4 separate regions of the Homo sapiens genome follow, and regions 2, 3 and 4 are each reported to be linked to region 1. The links are microRNA targets in miRTarBase. Many come from high-throughput screens and were not tested one by one. Region 1 holds a microRNA gene; each other region holds the end of a gene's coding sequence.
The links. Region 1 holds the annotated microRNA hsa-miR-378c (ACUGGACUUGGAGUCAGAAGAGUGG, at 3,711-3,735, shown strand). A microRNA usually pairs through its seed, bases 2 to 8, with sites in the 3' UTR of a target mRNA and lowers its output. Matches are read on the target gene's strand: a 7mer-m8 pairs with bases 2 to 8, a 7mer-A1 pairs with bases 2 to 7 and ends in A, and an 8mer does both.

Region 2: the mRNA of TGFB2 is a reported target of hsa-miR-378c. Seed matches in the 3' UTR shown: 7mer-m8 at 2,928-2,934.
Region 3: the mRNA of SEC31A is a reported target of hsa-miR-378c. The part of its 3' UTR that is shown has no 7-base or 8-base seed match.
Region 4: miRTarBase lists ARGFX as a target of hsa-miR-378c. Seed matches in the 3' UTR shown: 7mer-A1 at 3,643-3,649.

Annotation. Positions count from the first base shown.
Region 1 is chr10:130,960,728-130,966,368 of GRCh38, reverse strand. It overlaps MIR378C (microRNA 378c), which reads left to right and starts at 3,701; the gene lies at 3,701-3,781.
Region 2 is chr1:218,440,113-218,445,753 of GRCh38, forward strand. It overlaps TGFB2 (transforming growth factor beta 2), which reads left to right. Exons shown (of 7, transcript NM_003238.6): 7 at 1,092-4,507. The coding sequence ends at 1,250. It overlaps TGFB2-OT1 (TGFB2 overlapping transcript 1), which reads left to right and starts at 2,514. Exons shown (of 1, transcript NR_125715.1): 1 at 2,514-3,883.
Region 3 is chr4:82,815,199-82,820,839 of GRCh38, forward strand. It overlaps SEC31A (SEC31 homolog A, COPII component), which reads right to left. Exons shown (of 27, transcript NM_001077207.4): 27 at 3,311-4,055. The coding sequence ends at 3,876. Among named protein-coding and RNA genes, the nearest start is that of SCD5, 19 kb to the left of the region's middle.
Region 4 is chr3:121,586,188-121,591,636 of GRCh38, reverse strand. It overlaps ARGFX (arginine-fifty homeobox), which reads right to left. Exons shown (of 5, transcript NM_001012659.2): 5 at 1,015-5,449. The coding sequence ends at 5,037. It overlaps LOC124906360 (small nucleolar RNA U13), which reads right to left and starts at 343; the gene lies at 243-343.

The DNA.
Region 1 (5,641 bases):
ATCAAGATAGAAATGAACTAATTTAGTAATGTACAAAAGAGATATTCCAGAGAAGCCCAAAACTGGCATGCCACTCATGGTCCAGAGGATGCCCTTGCAATAGACAGAGATGGACCTCAGAGCCCTTTTGTGGTCCAAAGCAGCAACAATAAAGGTGAAATAACTGAGCAACCTGGCAAGTGCGGTTTGAAGGCAGATGAGAGGCAGGTGCATTAACACAGATAATCTGAGTCTGTTTTTCAGATATCCATTGGTTTTAACCTTGAGGATGAGGACAAGATATTAGTTGAGAGATGTAATCATATGTAGAAGATATTTCTCTCTCTCTTTTTTTTTAAAACAAGGTCTTGCTCTGTTGCCCAGGCTGAAGTTCAGTGGTGTGATCTTGGGTCACTACAGCCTCGACCTCCTAGGTTCAAGCGATCCTCCCACCTCAGCCTCCCGAGTTGCTCAGATTACAGGCATGAACCACTGCACCTGGCTAATTTTTTGTATTTTTATTAGAGACAGGGTCTCACCATGTTGGCCAGGCTGGTCTCGAACTCCTAGGATTACAGGCATGAGCCACCACTATGTAGAAGATACTTCAATCAAATAAGAGTAGATACCACCCTCACAGTTTGCAGGAGATTTAATTAAACATTACCACTTGATTCTATTAGTAACTCCAGATCTGCAAGGCAAATATTTCCAACTCACATTTTCCAGTGAATTCACTGAGCCAGGACTTGACCAGGACCTGTGTCTCTGGTCTCCTTGGTCAGTGTTTTCCTGCTGATGTCTCAGCTGTCTGCCATGAGAATGTCAGTCCCTTTCCAGGATGACACATCTCTGTGCAGTTGTACTAAGAGTTGAAAAGGATGAACTGGGGCTAGTTGCAGTGGCTCACGCCTATAATCTCAGCATTTTGGGAGAACAAGGCAGGTGAATCACCTGAGGTCAGCAGTTTGAGACCAGCCTGGCCAACATGATGAAACCCCTCTCTACTAAAAACACAAAAATTTGTTGGGCATGGTGGCAGGCGCCTGTAATTCCAGCTACTTGGGAGGCGAGGCAGGAGAATTGCTTGAACCTGGGAGGTGGAGGTTGCAGTGAGCCAAGATCGTGCCATTGCACTCCAGCCTGGGCAACAAGAGTGAAACTCCATCTCAAAAAAAGAAAAAAGAAAAGGAGGAATTGGATCAAGTAAATGAGTCATGGTACACGAAGAAAAGACCCAGACCCCAGGAGTTTGGTTTACAGGATGGGGACCTGGAGGCCAGCCTGCTGGGCGCCCTTCAAAGGGGCAGGTAGCTGGGTGCAGGGAAGGTCAGTGGGTTCGTGAGTCTCCTGGAAATGTTCCCTAGATGGATGGTAAGCTGCAGAACCATTTTCCCAGGAGTCCTCTAGATCCCGGGGTTAAGGTGCGGTGGGAAAGGTGCTCTTCAGCGGAAGCCCCCAGTACCCGGGCTCCACCTTCTCTTGTTTCTCTTCTTTCTTCTCCCTGGGACACTCGGGAGATGCAACGTGTTTCTGCTGGTTGGGAAAAGAGGTGAATTGGTTTTCTCCCAACTCCAACATAGAAAGTGTTGTTTTGACACTGTAGAAAATAGATAATTTCCGCTGATTTATTTCTGTCTCCTTCTGGGCCTGGCCGGCATGGGGGAAGCAGAGATGTACCTATTCAAATGACAAACATATCACCAAGATGGTGTGGTGCCCTGGCATTTCAGCATCCCAGAGCATCAGGCTGTGTTTCTGAAATAAATTCTGCCTTGACATGGTGCTAACTCTTTGTATTTATGGAGCACTTTTATTCCCAAAGTGTCTGTGAATATATCGTCTCCTTTCCTCCTCATGGGCTAATGCTTACAGACGTCTCCCCGGAGCATGGAGCCGCCAGGAAGGACAGATGGATGGTGGTCACGCTGAGGTGCGGCCCTCTGCCCCCTGCACTTTCCTACTCCTGGTTGTGAATCAGCAGGAGGAAACGCGGAAGGGCCTTCCTGGCGAGGCCAGCTGGGCTGTTCCCCGCAAGGCTTCCTTCTTCCTCACCGTGCATGCTCTCGCTGACTTAGTGGCTCTTTCTCCTGCAATCTCCAGCCCTCCCCTTGCCCAGTCTCACTCTGCAGGCTCCTACCTCTGCACTGGGCTGACGGGTAGTCCCCTTCATGTGACAAACATACTCCTTACCTAGGACCAGTACACCCAGCCTTTTCTGGTCCCCTAACAACTTCCAAGTCCCCCACTACCAATAGCCACATCCGAACTCACTTTTGGCTAGAGATCTGCATGGCCCATGGCCCAGTGAGGCTCCCTATTTTATAGCATTAGAGGGAAAGTGGCACCAGCCCTCTCCCCAGAGGAGTATCTCTCCTGGAGATGGGGGTCATCTCCCCGTTCTCCCTCCCTCCCTGGCTTCTCTGCATCACTGGGATCAGCCAGGGGACGGCTCCTCTTCAGTGGCCTGAGCTCCTGCCCATTCTGCCTCCTAGCCAGGCCTTCCTCTCCATGGCTGGCTCAGCCCTCGCAGGGCCTTCCCCCTCTTCTCTTGAGTCACTCAACTGCACCCTGGGTTGCCCCCCTTCAGTTCTACATTAAGGCTTCCTCTCTGGTTCCATCCATTGCCTTTGGTAACCTGGATTTCTGGTTGACTGGGAGACAATTCATCTTCTCTCTCTCTCTCTTTTTTTTTTTTTTTTTTTTTTTTTTTGAGACAGAGACAGAGTCTCGCTTTGTCCCCCAGGCTGGAGTCCAGTGGCGCCATCTTGGCTCACTGCAAGCTCCGCCTCCCGGGTTCACGCCATTCTCTTGCCTCAGCCTCCCGAGTAGCTGGGACTACAGGCACCTGCCACTACGCCCGGCTAATTTTTATTTTTATTTTACATTTTTTTTATGTTTATTTTTAGCAGAGACAGGTTTCACCGTGTTAGCCAGGATGGTCTCCATCTCCTGACCTCATGATCCGCCCGCCTCAGCCTCCCAAAGTGCTGAGTGAGCCACCGCGCCCTGCCGACAATTCATCTTCTAACCTAAACGTGTCCAAACTTAAAATAAATAACGCCCTTCATAGCTTCCTAGCTCTGCCTGGCCCAGCTGCCCGTCTGCCCAGAGCTGGAGGTGGGGATGTGGAGCCTTCTAGTCTTCTCTTCGCCCATGGATGGACCCTGCTGGGCCCTGCTGGGGACCCAAGGATCTTCTTTGCCAGCTGCTTCCTGGTGAAGGATGCTGCTAACAGCTCGCACCTGCAGCCTCCACCGAGGCTGCCCTGGGAGGCTGGAGCTGCCTTGCCTGAAGGCTTGTGGATGACAGGACACCCCAGCCCAACCAGGGTGGCCCAGAGCATTCAGGTAGGGCAGACGCCACAGCAATGTGGATGATCCAGGGTCCCCGCGGGGCAGATTGAGGCTGCCCTTGACCCTAAGCTGCATTCTTCAGCTTCCTCTCTTATTTTCACTGCTTCTCTCCCTCCGTCAAGGGTTTCTCCTGAGACACTGCCTTATGCGCTTGAACCAGAGCCCTTGTTTCCAGCTCTGCTTCTAGGGAAACCAGTCCCTCACATGAGGTCACCACGTGAGGTGGTCACTTCCCTCTGGGCTGCCCTGGGAGCTCCCGTCTCAGTGTACACGGCCACCCCTGAGCCTTACTGCTCCTCAGTGCAGGAGCCTCCCCTCCTGCTGTAGCTCCCAGGGCCACCCACGGAATCCTCCACCCTCCACTCGGAGGCCATCACTGGACTTGGAGTCAGAAGAGTGGAGTCGGGTCAGACTTCAACTCTGACTTTGAAGGTGGTGAGTGCCTCAAACTCAAACGTTCATGCATGGTGAGGATAAAAAGTAACTGCCCTGGGAGGATGAAACCAGGGAAGACAGCAAGTATGGAAAAGTGAGCACCGCAGATGCCACCATGCCACCAAGCACGAGTGATTTCATCTCTTGGTGGCCTCTCCTCCAAGACCAGCGGGGGTTCCCATTGCCGAGATCAGAGCCTCGGGCAAGGGTGAATGTTGGCTCCACTCACCCCGTGGGTACTCCCACTACTCAGCTTCCTGGCCCTCGAGGATGCCCAGGCCCATGGGTGCAGCATCAGCCAATGCTGTTTGCAACCAAGAGGTTCCAGTTCCCCCAGCTGCATTGAGAGGGGAGGAGCAGGTGTGCCCAGGAGAGGAGGACCCTGGTCTCAGGGAAGAGGGAGTGGTACTGGGGTCTCAGGAAGGGCTTGGAGGGACAGGACTGACACTCTGTCCGCAGAGATGTCAATGAGCACACAAAGGAGGCGAGATGAGGGAGCACAGAAGACAACCTCCAAGACGAGAGATGGGAGCTGAGGAAGCTGTGAACCTGCGAGGCACACAGAGATGGGGTAGAAGCTGCTCATGCTCATAGGAGGAGGGCAGATAGGAGGGGCCAAGGAGGGGCTCAGTGTCTGCCTCTGAATCTCAACCCCCCTTTCAAGGAAGGTGGTTATGCCCACATCCACTCATGCAAGGTGCCATGACAAAGTGCCTCTGTCTCCAGTGGGAGCAATCCTGGTATTCCAGCTCCACAGCCAGAGCACTGTGCAGAAAGACCCCCACCCCACCCCAGACTTTCTCTTCCCCGAGCTATCTGCACATGCACTGGTCTCTTCCTTGGGGGACTGCCTAAGGTATTTATCATCTAAGCTGCACCTGCATTTATCACATCCACTCACACTGGTTGTGACCCTCAAGACAGATTCTAAGTGTCTGGGTGTCTCCTGATAGGGTCTTTTGCATTGTCACCCACCTCCCAGATGTACCTCAAGATACACATGTTTAGTTAATTCTCACCATTGTGCTGATGGGCAAGCTGTGGCTCTCTCTACCTGAAATGAGAAACATGGGTTAGAAAGTGAATCAGTCTCACTGGGGTTTTCCAGAATTCCTGCCATTGCATCATGATGAAACGTGATGGGATTGTCATGTCTCACCTGGATTTTGAGAAATGATCATTGTCCAAATAAAGGAGCCAGCTAGAAAAGTGGACTGAGGTCACGACCAGGACAGGGACACTCTCAGACCTCTATTCTTGTATGTTCATGCCAACTCACATGGCTTCAGGGGAGAAACAGGGTGAAAACAGAGGCCTGCCCCTGGCACCCACCACTGACCAGCTCTGTAAAGACAACCAGGGTGGACAGATGCTGACTTGACTTGTGTCACATCTGCTGAAAGACAGAGATGAGCTATAAGGCCATGGCAAAGTCAAGTGCCATTACCAGCTAGCTGGGTCTGCTGGAAAGTTTGAGGTGCTCCCCAGCTTTAGAAATATAAAAATCAGATGATTAGCTTTGCCATGCATTCCCCCACTGATACCCCTGCTTCAGGATGTGGGAGGATCAGGTTTTGGGGGGACAGACTGTGTTCTGTGTGAACCCCTCAGAGAGAGGGGGCCCAGCTAAGGCCTCAATCGGAAGAAGAGGAAGTGGCTACACAGTGACATTGGGCCTCAGCAGAAGCTCAGAATCTGACTGAACTCCCGCCAAGGCCAAACGTGAGCATCACAAAGTGAGTCAAGGTAAGTGCATCATGCCACATGCCTTCCAGAAGATGGCATTGCCACCATCTGCCCCCAATACCCAGCCTTAGCCTCTGGGACAGAACCCGAGGACACAGTGCAAGAACAGGTCTTGGAGGCACAAT
Region 2 (5,641 bases), not on the chromosome of region 1:
ATAGAACCGTCTCTTCATTCTGTTTTCAGACTTGCCATTAACTCCTCCAACTCAGCAACTACCATTTACCGCATAGGTTAGTGGAGGGTTGATTATGATTGTGATTATGATTATGATCGTTTTAAGCAAAATGTAAGAAAGTGAATAATTATTTCTTATAGGAGATCTTAGAGATCACTTTTATGTCATTTCTAGCATCACTGTGTTTATGAAGCAATGGTAAAAAAACAGGCTTTTTTTTTTTTAATGAAAATTGAGGATACCTTAAATTGGCCTGAGGAGACACTTAACGTAGAAAGATTTCATTTCCTTCCTTCCTTATTTATTTATTTAAAGAAACAGGGTCTGGGTCTGTTGTCCAAGCTGGTCCTGAACTCCTACACTCAAGTGATCCTTCAAAGTGTTGGGATTACAGGCGTGAGCCACCGTGCCCAGCCTGTAGAAAGATTTCACATTGCATACAGGTGTCTTTTTCTATACCCAAAGGTAGATTAAAGCTCTTATGAGAGCTTTGATAAAACTTTTTATTCTTCTACTTATTCATGTATTCATTTCTTCACTTAGTACATGAATCTCATTTTGTCCAGAGAAGACTTACTAGGGCCACAAGATAAAAGCAAAGTCTGTAGAGTTCCTGATCTGGAGGGAGCTCTTAATCTAGATGGGATTGAAATGTATACTCAAGAAACAACTTCATTTACAGAGTAGTGTAGAAATAAGACCAAATGCTATAAGGATCAAGTTTTGTGGGGACCTAGGATGTATGTGCAGCCAAGCACTGATCAGAGGAAAGACTTACTGGAAAAACCGGGAAAATCTGTTGAATGAGCAATTTTTTCCAATCTGACTCTTACAGAATCATTTGCTTAAGATGTGTGGAAAACGAGTTCCGTGTGGGAAAATAATGACTTTGGTGATTGCTAAGGTCACATATCAGTTTGACTGTAATTTAGGAAATTAGCAACCAAAAATAATTTTAAATTGCCTACTCAGTGCTGTGACTGCTAACAATGTGGAATTCTTTTTAAAAACGAATTGCGTTCATTTTCCGTCTTTCCCTATGTTGTCTCTCCTCTCCTGTGTCCTTTCAGGTCCTGAGCTTATATAATACCATAAATCCAGAAGCATCTGCTTCTCCTTGCTGCGTGTCCCAAGATTTAGAACCTCTAACCATTCTCTACTACATTGGCAAAACACCCAAGATTGAACAGCTTTCTAATATGATTGTAAAGTCTTGCAAATGCAGCTAAAATTCTTGGAAAAGTGGCAAGACCAAAATGACAATGATGATGATAATGATGATGACGACGACAACGATGATGCTTGTAACAAGAAAACATAAGAGAGCCTTGGTTCATCAGTGTTAAAAAATTTTTGAAAAGGCGGTACTAGTTCAGACACTTTGGAAGTTTGTGTTCTGTTTGTTAAAACTGGCATCTGACACAAAAAAAGTTGAAGGCCTTATTCTACATTTCACCTACTTTGTAAGTGAGAGAGACAAGAAGCAAATTTTTTTTAAAGAAAAAAATAAACACTGGAAGAATTTATTAGTGTTAATTATGTGAACAACGACAACAACAACAACAACAACAAACAGGAAAATCCCATTAAGTGGAGTTGCTGTACGTACCGTTCCTATCCCGCGCCTCACTTGATTTTTCTGTATTGCTATGCAATAGGCACCCTTCCCATTCTTACTCTTAGAGTTAACAGTGAGTTATTTATTGTGTGTTACTATATAATGAACGTTTCATTGCCCTTGGAAAATAAAACAGGTGTATAAAGTGGAGACCAAATACTTTGCCAGAAACTCATGGATGGCTTAAGGAACTTGAACTCAAACGAGCCAGAAAAAAAGAGGTCATATTAATGGGATGAAAACCCAAGTGAGTTATTATATGACCGAGAAAGTCTGCATTAAGATAAAGACCCTGAAAACACATGTTATGTATCAGCTGCCTAAGGAAGCTTCTTGTAAGGTCCAAAAACTAAAAAGACTGTTAATAAAAGAAACTTTCAGTCAGAATAAGTCTGTAAGTTTTTTTTTTTCTTTTTAATTGTAAATGGTTCTTTGTCAGTTTAGTAAACCAGTGAAATGTTGAAATGTTTTGACATGTACTGGTCAAACTTCAGACCTTAAAATATTGCTGTATAGCTATGCTATAGGTTTTTTCCTTTGTTTTGGTATATGTAACCATACCTATATTATTAAAATAGATGGATATAGAAGCCAGCATAATTGAAAACACATCTGCAGATCTCTTTTGCAAACTATTAAATCAAAACATTAACTACTTTATGTGTAATGTGTAAATTTTTACCATATTTTTTATATTCTGTAATAATGTCAACTATGATTTAGATTGACTTAAATTTGGGCTCTTTTTAATGATCACTCACAAATGTATGTTTCTTTTAGCTGGCCAGTACTTTTGAGTAAAGCCCCTATAGTTTGACTTGCACTACAAATGCATTTTTTTTTTAATAACATTTGCCCTACTTGTGCTTTGTGTTTCTTTCATTATTATGACATAAGCTACCTGGGTCCACTTGTCTTTTCTTTTTTTTGTTTCACAGAAAAGATGGGTTCGAGTTCAGTGGTCTTCATCTTCCAAGCATCATTACTAACCAAGTCAGACGTTAACAAATTTTTATGTTAGGAAAAGGAGGAATGTTATAGATACATAGAAAATTGAAGTAAAATGTTTTCATTTTAGCAAGGATTTAGGGTTCTAACTAAAACTCAGAATCTTTATTGAGTTAAGAAAAGTTTCTCTACCTTGGTTTAATCAATATTTTTGTAAAATCCTATTGTTATTACAAAGAGGACACTTCATAGGAAACATCTTTTTCTTTAGTCAGGTTTTTAATATTCAGGGGGAAATTGAAAGATATATATTTTAGTCGATTTTTCAAAAGGGGAAAAAAGTCCAGGTCAGCATAAGTCATTTTGTGTATTTCACTGAAGTTATAAGGTTTTTATAAATGTTCTTTGAAGGGGAAAAGGCACAAGCCAATTTTTCCTATGATCAAAAAATTCTTTCTTTCCTCTGAGTGAGAGTTATCTATATCTGAGGCTAAAGTTTACCTTGCTTTAATAAATAATTTGCCACATCATTGCAGAAGAGGTATCCTCATGCTGGGGTTAATAGAATATGTCAGTTTATCACTTGTCGCTTATTTAGCTTTAAAATAAAAATTAATAGGCAAAGCAATGGAATATTTGCAGTTTCACCTAAAGAGCAGCATAAGGAGGCGGGAATCCAAAGTGAAGTTGTTTGATATGGTCTACTTCTTTTTTGGAATTTCCTGACCATTAATTAAAGAATTGGATTTGCAAGTTTGAAAACTGGAAAAGCAAGAGATGGGATGCCATAATAGTAAACAGCCCTTGTGTTGGATGTAACCCAATCCCAGATTTGAGTGTGTGTTGATTATTTTTTTGTCTTCCACTTTTCTATTATGTGTAAATCACTTTTATTTCTGCAGACATTTTCCTCTCAGATAGGATGACATTTTGTTTTGTATTATTTTGTCTTTCCTCATGAATGCACTGATAATATTTTAAATGCTCTATTTTAAGATCTCTTGAATCTGTTTTTTTTTTTTTTAATTTGGGGGTTCTGTAAGGTCTTTATTTCCCATAAGTAAATATTGCCATGGGAGGGGGGTGGAGGTGGCAAGGAAGGGGTGAAGTGCTAGTATGCAAGTGGGCAGCAATTATTTTTGTGTTAATCAGCAGTACAATTTGATCGTTGGCATGGTTAAAAAATGGAATATAAGATTAGCTGTTTTGTATTTTGATGACCAATTACGCTGTATTTTAACACGATGTATGTCTGTTTTTGTGGTGCTCTAGTGGTAAATAAATTATTTCGATGATATGTGGATGTCTTTTTCCTATCAGTACCATCATCGAGTCTAGAAAACACCTGTGATGCAATAAGACTATCTCAAGCTGGAAAAGTCATACCACCTTTCCGATTGCCCTCTGTGCTTTCTCCCTTAAGGACAGTCACTTCAGAAGTCATGCTTTAAAGCACAAGAGTCAGGCCATATCCATCAAGGATAGAAGAAATCCCTGTGCCGTCTTTTTATTCCCTTATTTATTGCTATTTGGTAATTGTTTGAGATTTAGTTTCCATCCAGCTTGACTGCCGACCAGAAAAAATGCAGAGAGATGTTTGCACCATGCTTTGGCTTTCTGGTTCTATGTTCTGCCAACGCCAGGGCCAAAAGAACTGGTCTAGACAGTATCCCCTGTAGCCCCATAACTTGGATAGTTGCTGAGCCAGCCAGATATAACAAGAGCCACGTGCTTTCTGGGGTTGGTTGTTTGGGATCAGCTACTTGCCTGTCAGTTTCACTGGTACCACTGCACCACAAACAAAAAAACCCACCCTATTTCCTCCAATTTTTTTGGCTGCTACCTACAAGACCAGACTCCTCAAACGAGTTGCCAATCTCTTAATAAATAGGATTAATAAAAAAAGTAATTGTGACTCAATCTGGTTGTCTTGCTTTGTCTAGTGAAAGAACTAGTGTGTGCCTGTTGTGTTGTCTAAACACCATCTAGAAACAAACCATCAATTCGAGTATTGAGATAGAAGAGAAAATGGTTCCCTTTTCTGCAGTCTCATCTGTGTTTGATCTTTCATAGTAAACTCATAGAGAGAGGAAGTTTGTCACTCTAAACCCATTAGTTCATGCTTCTGTGCAGCCTGGCTAGTCCCAGAGCTATCACCCCAACCCACATTATATTTAATTGATGAGTAAGAATAGAAGGTATTATAGAATCAGAGAGATGAAAAGAGCCACCTAACAGCCTTACCAACTTTGGCAAATTTGTCAGCAACTCTGGGCCTCTGTTTCTTTAAAATGAAGATGACAATCCCTGCTCTATAGCGTTTTGTCTGTGTGTTTTAGTGCCCTTGTTGTAGTTAAGTGAATAGACACGTGAAAAGGTACTTTGCTTAGTGTTTCTTCTGTAATTGGCAGAGTAAATGGCAGGCAGGCTTAACAATATTTCCAAGCCTGTTCTGTTTTTGGTTTCTTGGCAATCTTGTAATGAACTTTTAACCTCCAGACTATAACCTGGGCTCATATTTCTCCATCTTGATACTAAATGTATAAAACCTCCAGACCCTTATCTCATAAATTGATCAGGACATCAGTAATTCCTGAGAATATTCTATAACTCTATATGTTAACCTTTTGGTTACGGGACTGACAGAAGTTATTATAGGGAAAAAGTTCATTTTAAGCTTTACTGAAGTCCACCAATGAAAATTCAAAGTAAAAGAGAACAGTGGCTAGTTGAATGACCCACTCCCTAACATGATAATGCAGTATTGATAACTACAGTATTCTGAGCATCTACCAGACACTGTTCTCTTTTGATTTATTTAATCTCATATTTAATCCTAGGATGTAGGTTTTTAAAAGAATATAACTCCATTTTAAAGGGAAGTGAGCAGACTCAGAATGCTTAAATTACTTGTCCAAGACCACTCAGCTTGTAAGTGAAGGGTCCAGGACTTCATTGTCCATTATATTAGCCACTAGCCACATGTGGCCATTGAGCAATCAAAACATGGCTAATGTGAATTGAGATATGCCAGATGTGTAAAATATACACCAG
Region 3 (5,641 bases), not on the chromosome of region 1:
CAGGATACATGACAATTTTCTGAATCCAAAGAATATATAGGTTCACTGGACTCTCAACAGTTGGGTATAGAGCAGTTCTGTTCCCAACTTTTTCCTGCCCCACACTGCTCCAATGAACAACTACCTCCACTGACTCTATCTCTGATTACACATAATGATTCTCAAGTGCAGCCTAAGGGTACATCCATCCCATCAAACCCAAAGGGTGGTATAAAGAAGGGAGAAGAGGACCAGAAGTAATATAAAAAGCACCACCTCCAGAGACTCTGATACAGTTCCTGGCCAACACCCGGCCTCACCCACCAGCTTTCCTCACATTCCTTCCCTTGTTTTAAAATTAAGTAGGTTTTAAAAAAAAAGCACACATCATAAAAAGTAAATTGAACAGACCTGGCATTCAGAAAGCATTACTGGCCACTATATATGAAGTAATGACAAGGGTAGAAAATACAGCTCTAACTTTCCAAAATGTCACAACAAAGACTTGTATGATCCGTGAAATCTTTATATAAGAACAGCCTTAAACAGAGGTTCCTGAATTGTGCAGGCATATACTCTAATGCCATCCACGTTGAAAACATTAAAAATAGAATTATTTACAAAATCAAGTTGACTTTTTTTTCCATTTTTTAAAAAAGAAAACTTCTTAAAAGTTGTCTTTTCTGAAGAAAAACTTTCTCTAATTGCCTATTATCTTCATATTTCAGAGACAAAAACAATTTGAGTTTGGCTCATCTCACCTCCATTCATTTATATGAAACTCTTCCAAGATTATAAGCCACATAGAGAAATGGCTGCAAGTGGAAAAAAAAATCACAATGTAATGAAAAAGGAGAGAGCAGGTGCCCTGCTACCAGTGGCAGGTAGTTTTATACACTCATACTCATTTTTTTTTCTTTGAGATGGAGTCTTGCACTGTCGCCCAGACTGCAGTGCAGAGGCGCGATCTCTGCTCACTGCAAGCTCCGCCTCCTAGGTTCACGCCATTCTCCTGCCTCAGCCTCCAGAGTAGCTGGGACTACAGACACCTGCCACCACGCCCGGCTAATTTTTTGTATTTTTAGTAGAGGCGGGGTTTCACCATGTTAGTCAGATGGTCTCGATCTCCTGACCTCGTGATCTGCCCGCCTCAGCTTCCCAAAGTGCTGGGATTACAGGCGTGAGCCACCGCGCCCGGCCTATACACTCATATTCTTAAATAAATCTTTGGGTTGGCCAGGGCTCCACTGCCACCTACTCGTTTCTCATCTTTTGGAAAATAGTTTTTTTTTGGTAGAATGACACCAAATATGCCATTGTCATGTCAAGATAAACATGCAACTGCAAAACAAATTCTAACTATAAGGGTGATTAATTAAAAAAAAAAACTTGAAGCCAGTCCACTCTGCAGATGGTCTTGGGCTGATACTACTGTTCAGGGTCAAATCCAGAGGGTCACTTTGTCACTTCAACGAGTAGTGGAACTGACTCACACTATCTTTTTATTTTTATTTATTTATTTATTTTTGAGACGGAGTCTCGCTCTGTTGCCCAGGCTGGAGTGCAGTGGCACGATCTTGGCTCACTGCAATCTCCGCCTCCTGGGTTCAAGCAATTCTCTGCCTCAGCCTCCCGAGTAGCTGGGATTACAAGCGCCTGCCACCACTCCGGCTAATGTTTTTGTATTTTTAGTAGAGACGCGGTTTCACCATCTTGGCCAGGCTGGTCTTGAACTCCTGACCTCGAGATCCACCTGCCTTGGCCTCCCAAAGTGCTGGGATTACAGGCGTGTGACTCACACTATCAAGTGCATAGGAAACCAATGAGCTAGGTGACAATATATCCATTTATAAGTCTAGATAGTCCATTCCTGAGACTCCAACATATGTACATGCTATCAAGGTACTCTTTTTTTTTTTTTTCTTTCTTTTTTGGGACAGGGTGTCTGTCACCCAGGCTGGAGTGAAGTGGCACAATTACAGCTCACTGCAGCCTTGACCTCTGGGGCTCAAGGGATCCTCCCGCCTCAGCCTCCCAAGTAGCTGGGACCACAGGCATGTGTCACCACATCGGGCTAATTTTTTTTATTTTTAGTAGAGACACGGTCTCACTACAGCCCAGGCTAGTCTTGAACTCCTGGGCTCAAGTGATCCTCCTGCCTCTTCTCCCAAAGTGCAGGGATTACAGGTGTGAGCCACTGCACCCAGCCAGGGTAATTTTTTAAAATGCAGCATGTATTTGTTGAGTAGGGAATCTTGGCAAATAGAATCAAGAGGTTCTTGCAAACTATTTCACTCAGGCTGAAGAAAATTGACTTAACTTACTCCACAGTGTTTATTTTCTAGTTTTTTAACCCTCTTAAGGAATATTGCATAAACTATGAAAATTATTATCTAACTCTTCTCCAGATTCTACAGGGACCATTAATTTTTTGTTTACCACACTGTTCTTTTATTTATTTATTTATTTTGAGATGGAGGCTGTTGCCCAGGCTGGAGTGCAATGGTGCGATCTCGGTTCACTGCAACCTCCGCCTCCCAGGTTCAAGCGATTCTCCTGCCTCAGCCGCCCGAGTAGCTGGGATTACAGGCATGTGCCACCACGTCTGGCTGGCTAATTTTGTATTTTTAGTAGAGATGGGGTTCCTCCATGTTGGTCAGGCTGGTCTTGAACTCCTGACCTCAGGTCATCCGCCTGCCTTGGCCTCTGAAAGTGCTGGGATTACAGGCGTGAGCCACCGCGCCCGGCCTTACCACACTGTTCTTAAGACAGATGATAATAAAGTCACTTGACAGAAAAACTGGGTGCAAAATGTGTGGCTTTGATTTACAGGCTGACTGAAATTAAAGCTTTCTTTCTGAACTTAAACCTCAAAGCTACAGGTAATTTTTTTTTTTTTTTTTGAGAAAGAGTTTTGCTCTTATTGCCCAGACTGGACAGCAATGGCGTGATCTCGGCTCACCGCAACCTCCGCCTCCCGGGTTCAAGCAATTCTCCTGCCTCAGCCACCCAAGTAGCTGGGATTATAGGCATGCGCCACCACGCCCGGCTAATTCTGTACTTTTAGTAGAGACAGGGTTTCTCCATGTTGGCCAGTCTGGTCTCGAACTCCCGACCTCTGCCTGCTTCGGCCTCTCAAAGTGCTGGGATTACAAGCGTGAGCCACCATGCCTGGCACAGCTATAGGTAATTTAAACAAAATAGGTGAAAAAATTTCTAGCTATAAAATGGACACAATTTAGTCTTAAAACTCAAACAGAATATTGAAACATTTACAAATAGAAAAAAGCTCAATGCATTCTACAGAACAAAAATGTCCAGTCTTTTCCTATATAGTTAAAGCCAGTGATCCCATTTTTATTAATATCTGCTAAAACCCATGTAGCAGTTTGTAGATGTAGTTATTTACTCAGGAATCCTAAGACACAAAAAATAAACTAAATTTTAAGCAGCTGTTTCAAAAAAGACTATACACACATAAAATAGGATTACACACTTTAATCTGATTGACACTGAGGAAGTAGGGAGGACATGAAAGAAATTTAGTTTTAGCTCTGCTTTATGCATAACCAGATGCTCCTTTTCTAAAAAGTATATTGAGGTTTTAAAAAACACATTTATCAGAATACTTCAGGAAACCATACTATGTGTAATCCAGGAAATACACTATTTGCAGAATAGGAAAATCATCACTGGCAACAAAAGATTAAAACAAAAATAAAGCACCAGGGTTCTGAGCAGTTCTAAGGTGAGTATATCAGCAGAAATAGTGTAAATGCTCTTGACTGGTTGCTATGCAAACATGCTAATGAGGACTAGTCCATGTCTTATAATTTTTTTTTTTAACATGTTTCTTTGGAAAAATGGCAATATTGAGTGGAAGAGAAGCTGTCCTTTTAGACACCCAGCTTATTGGCCTGGGTGAGAACAACTTTGAGAACTGGCATGAAAGCAGAGGTCTCACTGAAGTTGCTGGTGCTAACTATGTGGGTATGCATGGTCAATCCTTCTGAGTAGTTTCGAGTTTCAATGCTCCTTGCAATGTTGTGTAAACCACTGGTGATTGTTGGTGAAAGCTGAAACAAAAGTGAACCAAGAGAAAGAATTAAATTAAGGGATAACTTCCCATGAGATCCTCCATAAACATTAAACCCAGATATTTAAGTGGAATTTGAAACAAACATTATAAAAATATATAAACCATTTAGCATTTCTAGAAAGTTTCTTGAACCAAGCAACAGTTATCAAGTACAACCACAACAAAATGATTTACATAAATAAGTTATTTATGAATTATACATGTATAAGCCAGGTATTTTCTTACAGAAAAGCAGCCCGATTTCCTCTCCAAACTGAAATGCTAATTTCTCTCTCCACTTAAGAGAGCTTCAGACCTTTAAAAAATTCTCCTATGCACAAAAAGGAGATTAAAGATTCTTAATCATAATATCTCAAAGGAAGGGCCCAAATTTACTAATTCTTACCTGCTTTTTATAATCCTGTCATCTCTTAAAACTATAAAACCTGTAGTTTTTTACTATGTCATTACTTGGCATAGGTGTCCATACTTTACAGAAGACTTTATTTGGATTTTTTTTTTTTGAGATGGAGTCTCACTCTGTCACCCAGGCTGGAGTACAGTGGTGCGATCTCGACTCACTGCAACCTCCGCCTCCCGGGTTCAAGCGATTCTCCTGCCTCAGCCTCCTGAGTAGCTAGGACTACAGCCGTGTGCCACCATGCCCAGCTAATTTTTGTATTTTTAGTAGAGACGGGGTTTTGCCATGTTGGCCAGGCTGGTCTCAAACTCCTGACCTCAGGTGATCTGCCCGCCTCAGCCTCCCAAAGTGCTGGGATTACAGGCGTGAGCCACCATGCCTGGCCTATTTTGATCTCATTTTTAAAAAATGTTTTAATATATACTCATCTAGATGTATACGCTAATTGTATCTTCTGTTTTTTTTTTTTTTTTTTGGAAATGCGGTCTTGCTATGTTGCCCAGGCTGGTCTCAAACTCCTGGGCTCCAGTGATCCTCCCGCATCAGCCTCCTCAGTAGCTGGGATTACAGGCATATCCCACTGTGCCCACCGAGAAGACTTTATTTTGGATCAGTCCAAGGACCACACTACTTCCACTGTTATATCAACTTTCTTTAGTTTGGTTCTCATGAGAGAAATGGTTATTTTCATCTGATGGAACTGAGTGTGGGGAATGGGTTAGAGGAATGCTGAAATGGAAAAAATAAAAAGAAAGTCCCACTTCTTTTTTTCTTCTCCTTTCCTAGTGCTTTCATTAATAAAACAAGACAATTTTAGAAAAGAATGGTGAGGTGGGGACAAGAGAACAAACGTAGTGAACTGACTTCTTACTCCTGGCTATCTTCATAGTTACAGCACATTACCCTATTCATCTTGTGGCTACATTTGGCTTTGCTTTTGTATAATGGCTATCCTAAAAGAAAAGGGTCAAGAGTCTTAGACTATGATAAAGATTATAGATTTAGTCCCTGGAAAACAGAGTATCTGCATACTCTTTGATTTCTTGTAACTGGGCCATATAAAAGGAACAGCAGAAGGTCAGCTACCTTATGGCCAACACAGGCCAGTTTGTATTTATACTCTTGTTATGAGAGGGTTAAAATGTCTCTCTCAACACACCCAC
Region 4 (5,449 bases), not on the chromosome of region 1:
TAGTTTGTTGAGTGAATCAAGAAAGAGTGTGGATCTTCATCAAATGCTTTTTCTGTGCCCAGCAAGATGATCATGTGGTTTTTGTCCTTTATTCTATTAATATCGTGTATTACATTGATGAATTTTTTTATGTTGAATCAATCTTCCATTCCTGAATAAACCCTACTTGGTCATGGTATCTATCCTTTTTATATGTTGCTAAATTTAGTTTGTTAGTATTTTATTGAGAATTTGTTTTTTCAAGTCAGATGCATAATGTGCCAATGTTGAAACAAGCTTCGAGGGTAGCACTCACACATCCACGTGAATGCCCAATCATCACATTCATGAACTACAAAAGGATCTTATTGAGGATTTTTGCGTCTATATTCAGAAGAGGTATTACAGGTTGAGTATCCCCAATCTGAAATCTGAATTCCAAAATGCTTTAAAATCCAAAATTATTTGAGTGCTGATGTGACACCACAAGAGGAAAGTTCCACACTTGGCCTCATATGGTGGGTCATAGTCAAAACGCACTCGAAACTTTGTTTCATCCACAGAGTTACTTAAAATATTGTGCAATTACCTTCAGGCTATGTATATAAGGTGTATATGAAACATAAATGAGTTGTGTTTAGGCTGGTGTCCCATCCCCAAGATATCTCATTATGTATGTGCAAATATTCCAAAAACTCCAAATCTGAAACGCTTCTGGTTCCAAGCATTTCCAATAGGGGATACTCACTATAATCTGTAGTTCCCTTATGGCGTCTTTGTTCAGCTTTGGTATCCAGATAATATCGATCTCATAAAATGAGTTCCCTCCTCTTTTGTTTTTTTTGGAAAAGTTTATGAAGGATTGGTGTTAATTCTTCTTTAAACATTTTGGTAGAATTTAGCAGTGAAGCCATCTGGGACTGGGCTTTTCTTTGTGGGAAGTTTTCAATTGTTAACTCAATCTCTGTGCTTGTTATAACTCTGTCTCAGTCTGTTTTTGTGTTGTTATAACAGAATACCTGAGACTGGGTAATTTATGAAGAGAGATTTATTTCTTACAGTTCTGAAGGCTGGGAAGTCTTCCAGTCTCAGACGGAAGATGGAGGGGCCACACCTGGCCAGGGCCTTCATGTTTCATCCTCCCATGGCAGAAGGAAGGGAGAGGAGGAGGTAAGAGAGAGAGAGAAAGATAGAGGTGGGGGTGGGGATAAAGATTTTGGGGAAGAAGAAGGCCGAACTCATCCTTTTATCAGGAACCCACTTCTGAGATAACTAACCCACTCCCACAATAATGGCATTAATCCATTCATGGGGGCTCTGCCTAGTAACCCTTAAAGGTCTCACCTCTCAAAGCTGTTGCTTTGGGGATTAAGTTTCCAACGCATGAGCTGTGGGGGACACATTCATACCATAGCAAGCTCTATTCACAACATCTATTTCTTGTGGAGTCAGATTTGGTATTCTGTGTCTTCCTAGGAATTTGTCCATTTCATTTATCTAATTTGTTGGCATTCAATTGTTCATAGTATTTCTTTCTAATAATTTTTATTTCTATAAGTTTGGTAATAAAATCTTGACTTTTGTTTCTGATTCTAGTAATTTGAGTCTTTTGAGGGGGTGGTCAATCTAGCTAAATGTTTGCCATTTTGTAGATCTTTTCAAAGAACCAGCTTTTGATTTCATAATTTTTTTTCTGTATTGCTTTTCTATTCTCTATTTCATTTATTTCTGTTCTAGGCTTTCCTTCTTTCTGCTTTCTTTGGACTGTTATTATCAATTATTGAGAATGTTCTATGAATATACCACATTATGACTATATATTAGTGAAGTTTTCTTAAGAATTTTAATTTTTGCTAAAATTTGCCTCATATATTTTTGGTATATGTTGTTAAGTATATTTAAGTTCAAAGTTATTATATATTTCAGGTTAGTTGTTCCTTTTGTTGTTGTCTAATATACTTCATTTCTAAAAAAACTGTTTTGGCCAGGTGAGGTAGCTCACACCTGTAATCTCAGCCCTTTGGGAGGCTGAGACGGGAGGATCACTTGAGCTCAGGAGTTTGAGGCCAGCCTGGGCAACATGGCAAAACCTGTCCCTACTAAAAATACAAAAATTAGCTGGGTGTGGTGGCGTACACCTGTAGTCCCAGCTACTTGGGAGGCTAAAGCAGGAGAATCATTTGACCCAGGAGGCGGAGGTTGCAGTGAGCCGAGATTGCACGGCCTGGGTGACAGAGCAAGACTCCATCTCAATAAAAAAGTTTTGCCTTGAAGTTTAATTTGACAGATATTGATAAAACTATGCCACTTCCTTCCTATGTAAAGCTACTTTTAAAAAATATGTATATAAGTATTTGAAGCTATAAATTTCCTTCTAAGCATTGATTTAGCTTCATCCCATGTTTTGGTTTGTTGTGCTTTTGTTTTTTTCAGTTAAAAGTGTTTTCCAATTTTACTCATGATTTCTTCTATTTATTTATTTATTGAGACAGTATCACTGTGTTGCTCAAGCTGGAGTGCAGTGGCACAGTCACAGCTCACTGCAGCCTCGACCTCTGTGGCTCAAGGGATGCTCTTACCTCAGCCTCTCGAGTAGCTGGGACCATGGGCTCTGGCCGTCATGCCCAGCTAATTTTTTATTTTTTGTAGACACAGGGTTTTGCCATGTTGCTCAGACTGTGATTACCTCTTTAACCACTGGTTATTTAGGAATGTGTTGTTTAATATCCACATATTTGTGAATTTCCCAAATTTTATTGATTTCTAATTTCGTTCCATCATGTTTGGAGAACACACTGCATAGTTTCAATCCTTGTGATTCTCCTGCCTCAGCCTCCCAAGTAGCTGGGACTACAGGTGTGTGCCACCATGCCCAGCTAATTTTTTTTTTTTTTTGTATTTTTAGTAGAGGCAGGATTTCACCATGTTGGCCAGGATGGTCTTGATCTCTTGACCTCGTGATCTGCCCGCCTTGGCCTCCCAACGTGCTGGGATTACAGGTGTGAGCCACTGCGCCTGGCCTATTCAAAACATTTTCTATGTCCTTTTTTAAGTTTTGAAGTTTTCTCCACAGAGGTATTAATTTTTTTGTGAATTTCTAGGTACTTTTACATTTTTCATTGAGAGGTACTTATCTTATGTTTCTTTTATTTTTTATTTTTTATTTTTTATTTTTTTTTTGAGACAGAGTCTTGCTCTGTTGTCCAGGCTGGAGTGCAGTGGTGCGACCTCAGCTCACTGCAACCTCCACCTCCCAGGTTCAAGCAATTCTCCTTCCTCAGCCTCCCGAGTAGCTGGGATTACAGGTGTGTGCCACCATGCCTGGCTTTTTTTTTTTTTTTTTTTTGTATTTTTAGTAGAGACGGGATTTCACCATGTTAGTCAGGCTGGTCTCAATCTCCTGACCTCGTGATCCGCCCGCCTCGGCCTCCCAAAGTGCTGGGATTACAGGCATGAGCCACCACCCCCAGCCCTTATGTTTCTTTATTACTGGTGTTCAGAAATGGTATTAATTTTGTAGGTTGATCATGTGGCTGGAAAATATGCTAACTTGTCATTCTAAAAGTTTGACTCTTTATTTTGTGAGTTTTGCAAGTTTATCATCTCACCTTCAAAAATCTGTTTTTATTTCTTCCTGTGATAGTTTTTACACCTCTTATTATGTCTGGACCATTGTACTATATATATATATATTATTTTTTCATTGTACTATATTAAAACTAGTGGTGACAGTAATTTCCCCTCAAATTAGGACTGAAAGTCTCATTTTAAAAAAACCCAAATTCAGCCTGGGCAACAAGGCGAAACCCCATCTCCACTAAAAATACAAAAATTAGCCAGACATGGTGGCGCATGTCTGTAGTCTCAGCTACTCAGAAGGCTGAGGTGGGAGGACTGTTTGAGCCCAGGAGGCAGAGGCTGCAGTGAGCCAAGATGGTGCCACTGCACTCCAGCCTGGGTGACAGAGTGCTGTCTACAAAAAACAAATAACAAACAAAAAATGAAAAATTGGAAACAAAATGTAAGTTTATAACTTTCTGTCATTAAAAGTGGATGATAGTGTACTCACTTCCACAACACATATACTAAAATCAGAATGATACAGAGAGAAAAGTGGATGATGGTTTCTTCGGTTTCCTTGAAAAAAAGTGTTTTTAAACTAGATAACCCAGCCGGGTGCGATGGTGCACTCCTGTATTCCTAGCACTTTGGGAGGCTGTGGCAGGTGGATGGCGTTAAGTCCAGGAGTTGGAGACCAGCCTGGGCAACATGGCAAAACCTCGTCTCTACAAAAAACACAAAAATTGGCCAGGCTCGGTGGCTCATGTCTGTAATCCCAGCACTTTGGGAGGTCAAGGCAGGCGGATCACTGGAGGTCAGGAGTTCAAGACCAGCCTGGGCAACGTGGTGAAACCCCGTCTCTACTAAAAATACAAAAGTTAGCCAGGCATGGTGGCACACGCCTGTAATCCCAGCTACTCAGGAGGCTGACACAGGAGAATCACTTGAACCCCAGGAGGTGGAGGTTGCACTGAGCTGAGATCCCGCCACTGCACTCCACCCTGGGTGACAGTGCGAGACTCAGTCTCAAAAAAAAAAAATTAGCCAGGTGTGGTGGCGAGCATCTGTAGTCCTAGCTACTCAGGAGGCTGAGGTGGGAGGATCACCTGAGCCCAGGAGGTCAAGGCTTTTGTGAGCCGTGACTGTACCACTGTATTCCAGCCTGGGTGACAGAATGAGAGCTAGTTTCAAAAAAATAAAAGTGGATAACCCCCAAAACCACTGTCCTACTTTTAGAAAATCCAAGATAGTTTTGGGAAGGGAATTTTGGAGTCTCATTGGCCATGAAAGGGACTAGGCAGGCTTCTCAGGGAGACTTGTGGGGCTGATTACGTAGTGCCCAGCTCTACTTGGAAAACTCTTTTTGCAACATTTACATGGAAATCAGAGACACAGACCCAGATGTTGGGTTAAAATGAGACAAAGGAAAAAAACAGTCATGTACAAGAGGCAAGAAGACCACTTTTCTAAATGATCTATATTTATTAGTACTCTGGTCAGAGAAATCCCAAGTCTACCATATTGGAGGTTTTCTGGAATTCCAGGCTATCTGTTAGACTGTAGGCTTCAAAGGCTTGGCTTGTCATATTGGGCCAGGTTTGTGCAGGAGATAGGCCTACAGCTGGACCAGCAAAGATGCTGAGAGAGGAACCCTGTCCTCCTACCTGGTACTTTGTGGGTGAGAGATACTGATACAGACAGTGGAAAGAAGAGCTGGATATCTCATTCTCATCAGGAAGATTGTACAGTTCTATGATTTGGAATATGTCATAGGCATCAGAGTACAAAGCAGGAACCGAGGCCACCAGCCTCTCCCACTGAGTATCTTGCATTTGGAAGTCACTGGTAGAACTCTCAGTGAAGGTAGAGTTCCATGCCCAATTGGAAGGGTCTAAGGGCTGAGATGGAA